2 linked regions of the Homo sapiens genome follow. The protein of the gene in region 2 interacts with the protein of the main gene of each other region in a pairwise test. Each region holds a gene or a part of one and is shown on either strand. Other genes may lie near its edges.

Evidence for each region.
Region 1: the proteins of ITPKC (region 2) and PPP3CC interact in a two-hybrid assay, tested with the Homo sapiens proteins (one large-scale study listed by BioGRID and IntAct).

The regions. Positions count from the first base shown.
Region 1 is NC_000008.11:22,472,078-22,475,577, reverse strand, and holds part of PPP3CC (serine/threonine-protein phosphatase 2B catalytic subunit gamma isoform), read right to left. Parts: intron 625-3,500; coding exon 427-624; intron 79-426; coding exon 1-78. UniProt on the Homo sapiens protein: Calcium-dependent, calmodulin-stimulated protein phosphatase which plays an essential role in the transduction of intracellular Ca(2+)-mediated signals. Dephosphorylates and activates transcription factor NFATC1.
Region 2 is NC_000019.10:40,736,904-40,741,111, reverse strand, and holds the end of ITPKC (inositol-trisphosphate 3-kinase C), read right to left. Parts: intron 4,127-4,208; coding exon 4,025-4,126; intron 3,415-4,024; coding exon 3,343-3,414; intron 2,306-3,342; coding exon of another isoform or gene 2,261-2,305; exon of another isoform or gene 1,756-2,260; coding exon 1,552-1,755; 3' UTR 252-1,551; downstream 1-251. UniProt on the Homo sapiens protein: Catalyzes the phosphorylation of 1D-myo-inositol 1,4,5-trisphosphate (InsP3) into 1D-myo-inositol 1,3,4,5-tetrakisphosphate and participates to the regulation of calcium homeostasis.

The sequences.
Region 1 (3,500 bases), on a different chromosome or scaffold from region 2:
AGCGTGTGTTACTAGGTGATCCTCCAACTTCAAATAACTTCATTAGGTCAAAGAATTGTCCATGAATATCACCACATACTAGGAAAAAAAGCATAAAGTGATGTGAGAAATTATACCTTAGAAGACGAAGGGCATTACACCAAAAGGGATCACAGTTTAACTTCTAACTTAAATCACTCCAGCTTTTGACAGGACTGCTGTAAAACTGTAGTCAATCTACTCATACTAAATAGTTCTACTGGAAATATGAGACACTTAAAATTGTATTTCTTCAATTAACAACAAATATCCTAACCAATCCTGACTGTCTCATAATTTCTAGAAAAATTACCACACCACTTTTTAGCTGGTTATTTGTAATTATTTCTCAAAACTGCTCATGCAAATCTATACTGTAAAAAAGTATCATGCAAAGACTTTTTATACCTGTGATTGGAGCATCTACTTCTATCATAGTCTTCTCTTGCCTCAGGATGGCAGCCCCATCATTGATTATCTTTAAGGCTACTTCCTCTTCCAGTCGTCCTTCCTTTACCAAATGGTTTTTTAAAACATCAACTTTAGGTTTCCCATTCTCAAATACTTCCTTGAAAGTAAGCCGTTGGGTTGGAGGAAAGGGGACAGCTACAAAAAAATAATAATAATAATTTAAAATATTTAAATGTATAGAGAACAAACAGAACACAATTCTTTTACATGACAAATTAAACCTAATAAATCACCATGATTTCACATCCACAGCACCAGTACGTGGGGAAAAAATTCTAAGATACTATGTATCATAAATGATCAATTCTAAGTATAAAAAGGTGACAGTCATTTTAAATATTTGTGTGTGCATAAATTATAATGGTTTTTGTTGTTTGTTTTTTTGAGATGGAGGCTTGCTCTGTCAACCCAGGCTGGAATGCAGTGACACGATCTCAGCTCACTGCAACCTCCGCCTCCTGAGTTCAAGCGATTCTTCTGTCTCAGCCTTCTGAGTAGCTGGGATTACAGAAGCATGCCACCACACCTGGCTAATTTTTGCATTTTTAGTAGACACAGGGTTTCACCATGTTGGCCAGCCTGCTCTCGAACTCCTGACCTCAGGTGATCCACCTGCCTCGGCCTCCCAAAGTGCTGGGATTACAGGAGTGAGCCACTGCGCCCAGCCCTATGTTTTACACATAAACATGAAAGACTTGAAGCTGATTCAGGGAACAAGTTATAAATGAGACAAGACACTAGATGACATGAGTATCTTTGTTTTTCTATCTATAGAACAGGTGTTAAAAATGAAACTATGGTTAAAGAAAATGAAAGAAAAGTAGTCATAATACTAAAATGGCATTTATTTCTCCTATAGAACTGTCCTAATGACACCTATGTTTTAGAAGTCTCGGCCGGGCACCATGGCTCACGCCTGTAATCCCAGCACTTTGGGAGGCTGAGGCAGGCAGATCACTTGAGGTCAGGAGTTCAAGACCAGCCTGGGCAACATGGCAAAACTCCACCTCTACTAAAAATACAAAAATTAGCCAGGTGTAGTGACAAGTGCCCATAATCCCAGCTACTCGGGAAGCTGAGGCAGAAGAATCGCTTGAACGTGGGAGGCAGAGGTTGCAGTGAGCTGAGATCGCGCCACTGAACTCCAGCCTGGGCAACAGAGCAAGACACTGTCTCAAAATAAAACAAAACAAAACAGAATAAAACAAAAGGCAGTAGCTTAATGTACTTTGTTACTGATAATAACAAGAACACTACTACCAAGATGGAGCTATGTCTGAGAATAATTTGCTGTAGTAACAGAGCATAAAAGAATGGATAAGGGGCCGGGTGTGGTGTGGCTCACGCTTGTAATCCCAGCACCTTGGGAGGCCAAGGTAGGTGGATCACCTGAGGTCGGGAGTTCAAAACCAGCCTGGCCAACATGGTGAAACCCTGTCTTTACTAAAAATACAAAAATTAGCCGGGTGTGATGGCACACACCTGTAATCCCAGCTACCTGGGAGGCTGAGGCAGAAGAATTGCTTGAATCTGGGAGATGGAGGTTGCAGTGAGCCGAGATTGTGACACTGCACTTCAGCCTGGGCGACAGAGCAAGACTCCGTTTCAAAAAAAAAAAAAGTGGATAAGGGAAGTCCAGTTATGTTTTCTAACCTGGAAATGCTAATAACTACCTTCAGTTTACATTAGGTACAAAGTTTATATATATAATATCATGGAGAATTAGCAAGTTCATTTAATATTTTTAAATTGGCTGTTGTCTTGTTATGTGCCTACTTTATAACACAGTCTACTTTAGATCCCCTGGGATCTAAGAGCCACAAGTCTGTAAACCATAAATTTAAAAGGAGGCGTTCAATTGAATTTCTGATATATGTCCAATGTTTCCACTTCCAGCTTTATGGAACCAAGTTGAAATCTATGAGTATTTTTAAAAGACTTAATCTAGCCATACCATATTGTATCATTTACAAGTAAAGAAAGTCCTATTATAAGTTTCGTCATGCTTTCAGCTACTACTTGACTCATTTTAACTACTCAAATTTCACTGAAAAAACGATAGCAGCTACCCAACCACTAAAATAGCTAAATACAGTTGTGTGCCACAAAATGATGTTTTGGTCAACAATGGACTGTAGTTAAATGGAGCTGAAAAACTCCTGTCATCTAGTAACGTTATAGCCACAATAACATCGCAGGAATTGACTAATGAGTGGGAACTGGAATAGGAATGCAAAGCTGAAGAAGCAGCAAGAGAGAAGGAAGTTTGCTGGAGAAAGAAAAAGAACCCCCAACAAAACTCACAGTGAAGGGTTTGGGAGAAGCTTTTGCACACCTCAACAAACTCCTTAGGAAGTGTGAAAACATGGACCCCCAAAAACAGAAAGGTTTTCATTAATACACAGGAATGTTCATGCTGCATTAACTGCTTACAAACAAATCTACAATGAAAAATAGAAATAAACCAAGCAAAACACCATGGGCAAATTTCTGAAAAGAGTGACATCTCCTCAAGAGCCTCAGGCAGGTCCTTCAGGAGGACTTCCAGAAGAAGGTATTGTTATCCTAGGAGATAACAGCTCCATGCCTGTTACTGCTCCTGAAGGTGTGCCAGTGGATAAAGATGTAGGGGGGCAAGCCAGGGATATTCATGATCCTGACCCTGTGTAGACCTAGGCTCAGTGTGTGTGTGTGTGTGTGTGTGTGTGTGTGTGTGTGTGTGTGTTCATTTTTACCAAAATATTCTAAAAGTTAAAAAAAAATTTAAACTTTTTAAATAGAAAAAGCCTATAAAGATATAAAGAAAAATTATTTTCTATAGCTATACAATGTACTTGTCTTTTAAGCTAGGTGTTATTACAAAAAAGTCCAAAAGTTTTTAAAAACTGAAACATTTATAAAGTAAAAACTTAACAGTAAGCTAAGTTTAATATATTATTAAAGAAAAAAAATTTGTTTTTGAGATAGGATCTCGCTTTATTGCCCAGATGGGAGTGCAATGGCACTACCAT
Region 2 (4,208 bases):
CACCATCCCAGCCCTGATCAGCCTGTCTGTGCATCCCCCATCCCAGCCAGGGCTTGGAGCAGCCTTGCTCACCACTGTGTCCCCTGCATTGTAACACATCCAGGCACAAGAATAGCCGCCCAGTGACTGCCAAGTGAGTGAACCAGCCTGCTTGGAGCCTGCCTCTTTCCCAAACTGCTCATTATCCTGTTACCCCACCCAGCCCACGTGTCCAAATACACTCCAGATGCAAAATAAAAAGCTCTACGACATTGGCTCTGAATGTTCTGTTTATTGGGGTGTTGTCATGGGTAGGAGGCTCAGCAGAGCCATTCTGCCTCCTGCTTCCCAGTACTACCCCGTCCAGCAACTGCCTCTCGTATAAATAAGTATCAAGATGGTCAGTAGAAAAGGAGAGCATCTCCTCAGCCCTGGAAGACAGTGTGGGAGCTTCAGCTTAAGGAAGAGGTAGGTGCCTGTCCGCCAGCCCAGCCTCAAGGGCCAGGAAGACCTGGCTATGGGTGCTGGAGGGGCCGTTAGCCACACCCCAGGGTTCTACAGTCTTTGGTTTGGATCAGGCTGCAGGCCAGGGTCCTGGCTGGCAGCCCCACCCACCCTGCGCCTCTGACACACACCCAGCGCTTTTCCCTGCAGGGGCCCGGGATTGGATGGGGCCCTCCTGAGTGCAGCAGCTCTGAGTTGCAAGGGGAGGCCCACTTTCCCAGCCTCTGAACCTCCTTTCTGCCACTGCAGTTTGCTGGGAGAAAGGAGAGAGAAGCCTGGGGGTCAGGCAGGAGGTGTAAGTCCTGAGGCCGGATCTGGTGCACAGAGGAGCGAGGTACTGTCACAGTGCTGGCACAGAAGCTGGGATGTGGCTGTGGTTTGGGTCTGCAGGAGGTCAGCAGAGTCCGCCGAGGAACACGGAGGATCCCACAGGGCCACAGCAGGGCAGGATACCGCCCAGCGGTATCAGCCCTCAGGCCGCATCCAGTCCCATGGGGTCATGCCCTCTGAGCCTCTTGTCGCTCAGCACTCAAATGGCTCCCTGGTGAAGACATGGACTGTCACTCTCCCCAGATGGTCCAGCAGCGCCTGCATCTGTTCACCAATGATGCTGACCCTCTGAGGCGCCACAGATGAGCCTGACCCAGTCCCTGGCCTCAGCCAGCTGGCAGCCTGGAGGCTGACAGGGAGGCAGGTTAGAAGTGATTCATGTGTCCACAGGCACCCTGTCACACCATACCCTGTGACATGTGAACTGAATGCTCTCAGGGCAGCCCCTCAGAAGCCTTCCCGGCAGATCCGGGGACCCCGTTCTGGTTTTTCTGACTCACTGCCTCATCACCTTCCTTCCAGGTCCCCAAAACCCCTGCATCATGATGGGGCCAGGTGCTACCTGGTCTCCCAAGGCCCTTCAGACTTTTCCACGTTGGTCTCGTGTGGCACATGACACAATCTCTCCCGTCCCTGGAGGCCAGCTCCCCCGTGGCCAACCTCAGGCCTCCCATGGCATCTCAGGGCTCCTCCAGCCAGACTGGCGCCATCCAATTAACCTGATGGTGGCTGAGCAGCTCAGCTCTGTGCCAGCCCCTGCAGGAGGCAGATCATGTTGTCCAGGCCCCAGAGGTAGCCGTCCTCACGGTTGCCCTCAGCCCAGGGCAGCCTGTGGCTGAGCGTCTGGTGGTCGGGCAAGGCCACCGTCTTGCCGAAGTCTATCATCCAGACCTTGGCCAGGCCGGTGTGGTCGTGCACGAAGAGGAGGGAGCTGCCTACCACCTGCCGGGGTAGAGACGGGAGGTTAAGGGAGGAGCAGGCACTGGCCAAGGTCCCTTCCTGACAGGCAGCAGAGCAGGGTGATTGACAGCATGAACCCTGGAGCCTGGCTGCCTGATTCATATCCTGGCTGTGCCACCTCCTGTCTGTGCAGCCTTAGGCAGGTGTCTTAACCTCTCTGTGGTTCTGCGTCCTCATATACAAAGTGAGAGTAATACAGTTAGTCTCCCCAGTCCGTGGTTTCATTTTCTTTGGTTTTAGTTACTCTCAGTCAAGTGCGATCCAAAAATATTAAGTGGAAAATTCCAGAAACAAACAATGTGTAAGTTTTAAGTTGCACATTGGTTTAACTACTGTGATGAAATCTCGTGCCATCCCGCTTCGTCCCACCTGGGATGCGAATCATCCCTTTGTTCAGCAAGTCTATGCTGTATCCGCAACCCACCCACTAGTCACCTAGGAGCCATCTTGGTTATCAGATCGAGAAAACACAGTCTATAGTTCAGTACTATCCACAGTTTCCGGCATCCACTGGGGGTTTGGAGGAGATCACCTGAGGATAAGGGGTCGACTGTAGGATCATTTACCTCAGAGGCTGCTGGGCATATTATATGTAGGAATTAATCTACATTAAGTGCTTAAGACAGTGCTTGGTACATAGCAAATACACAGCAAATGTTCAGTGTGAGGCATAATCAAAATGCACTGCAGCCTTGACCTCCTGGACTCAAGCCCTCTTCCTGCCTCAGCCTCCTGAGTAGCTGAGACTACAGGTGTGCACCACCATGCCTAGCTTTGCTTTTTTTTTGAGACAGAGTCTCACTCTGTTGCCCAGGCTGGAGTGCAGTGACACAATCTCAGCTCACTGCAACCTCTGCCTACTGGGTTCAAGCAATTTCTGGCTAATTTTGTTGTTGTTGTTGTTGTTGTTGAGACAGAGTCTCACTCTGTTGCCCAGGCTGGAGTGCAGCGGCACAATCTCGGCTCACTGCAAGCTCCACCTCCCGGGTTCATGCCATTCTCCTGCCTCAGCCTCCCAAGTAGCTGGGACTACAGGCGCCCGCCACCACGCCCGGCTAATTTTTTGTATTTTTTAGTAGAGACGGGGTTTCACTGTGTTAGCCAGGATGGTCTCGATCTCCTGACCTCGTGATCTGCTCACCTCGGCCTCCCAAAGTGCTGGGATTACAGGCATGAGCCACCGCACCCAGCCAATTTTTGTATTTTTAATAGAGACGGGGTTTCGCCATGTTGGCCAGGCTGGCCTCAAACTCCCGACCTCAAGTGATCCGCCCGCCTCAGCCTCCCAAAGTGCTGGGATTACAGGCATGAGCCACTGCACCCGGCCTTTTTTTTTTTTTTTTTTTCCAAATAGAGACGGGGTCTTGCTGTGCTTCCCAGGCTGGTCTTGGCACTCCTGGGCTCCAGCAATCCTCCCACCTCAGCCTCCCAAAGTGCTGGTATTACAGGTGCGGGCCACAACGCCCAGCCCCTTTTTATATCTTTGACCTGTAACTCATCAATGGTTTCCCCTCCATGCACCTGGACCCCGACACCCATACATCCACCCATGGAAGCCAGGGCTCGCACCTCGTGGGTCTTGAAGAAGGGGGAGATCTCCAGAGCTTCACGAAGTTCTTCTAGGCATGCCACGTACTTTTGCTGTGTGACAGGGAGCGTTCTTTGGTTAGCATGGGGACTTTGTGGGGCCTTGCCCACCTTGAGCTCTGACCTCACCCCATTCCCCCAAAGGAGCAGGCAGGCTCTAGCCAGGATGGAATAGGGGAGCCATGGGGAAGACAGGGCAGAGGAGTGAGGGCTTGGATTCATCAAGGTGGCATGGAGAAGAGTGGTGGATTCCATGAATTTCCACTCCCATCCGGAGGCGGAGTCTGTCTCCAGACCCCTCGATCCAGGCTGGGTCACATGACTTGCCGAACGGCAGAAATGATGGTGGCCATTCTGAGCCCAGGCATCAAGAGGCCTTGCATTTTTACTTGTTCTCTTGGCCCCCTGCCTCCACTGTGAGAGCAAGCCCAGGCCATCCTGCTATCGAGAGACGTGCGGCCAAGTCATGAGCCAACCGGCAGAGCTGGGAGCAGGGCCCCCTGGACCAGCCAGCCTTGCCAAGCCACCAGCTGACCTCAGACTGAGCAAAGCCAGCCAGTATCAGTCCAGCCCCACCCAAAGCAGAAGACCACTGACTCTGGAGCAAGAATAAATGGTGGCTGTCTTAAGCTGCTACATTCTGGGACATGGGTGTCCCACTCACCAGGATGACGTGGTCTCCATCCACGAAGTCCTCCAGCACTTTTGTCACCTGCTCCAGTGCCTGCGTCTTCTTGAAGTTGGTGTTACAGGTCCCATCTGCCTTCTGTAGGGCAGGGTGTGGAGGGGCAGGGTCATGGGCTTTTCCTTCCCGCACCCAATACCCAGCAACCTCAAATACCTCCCAG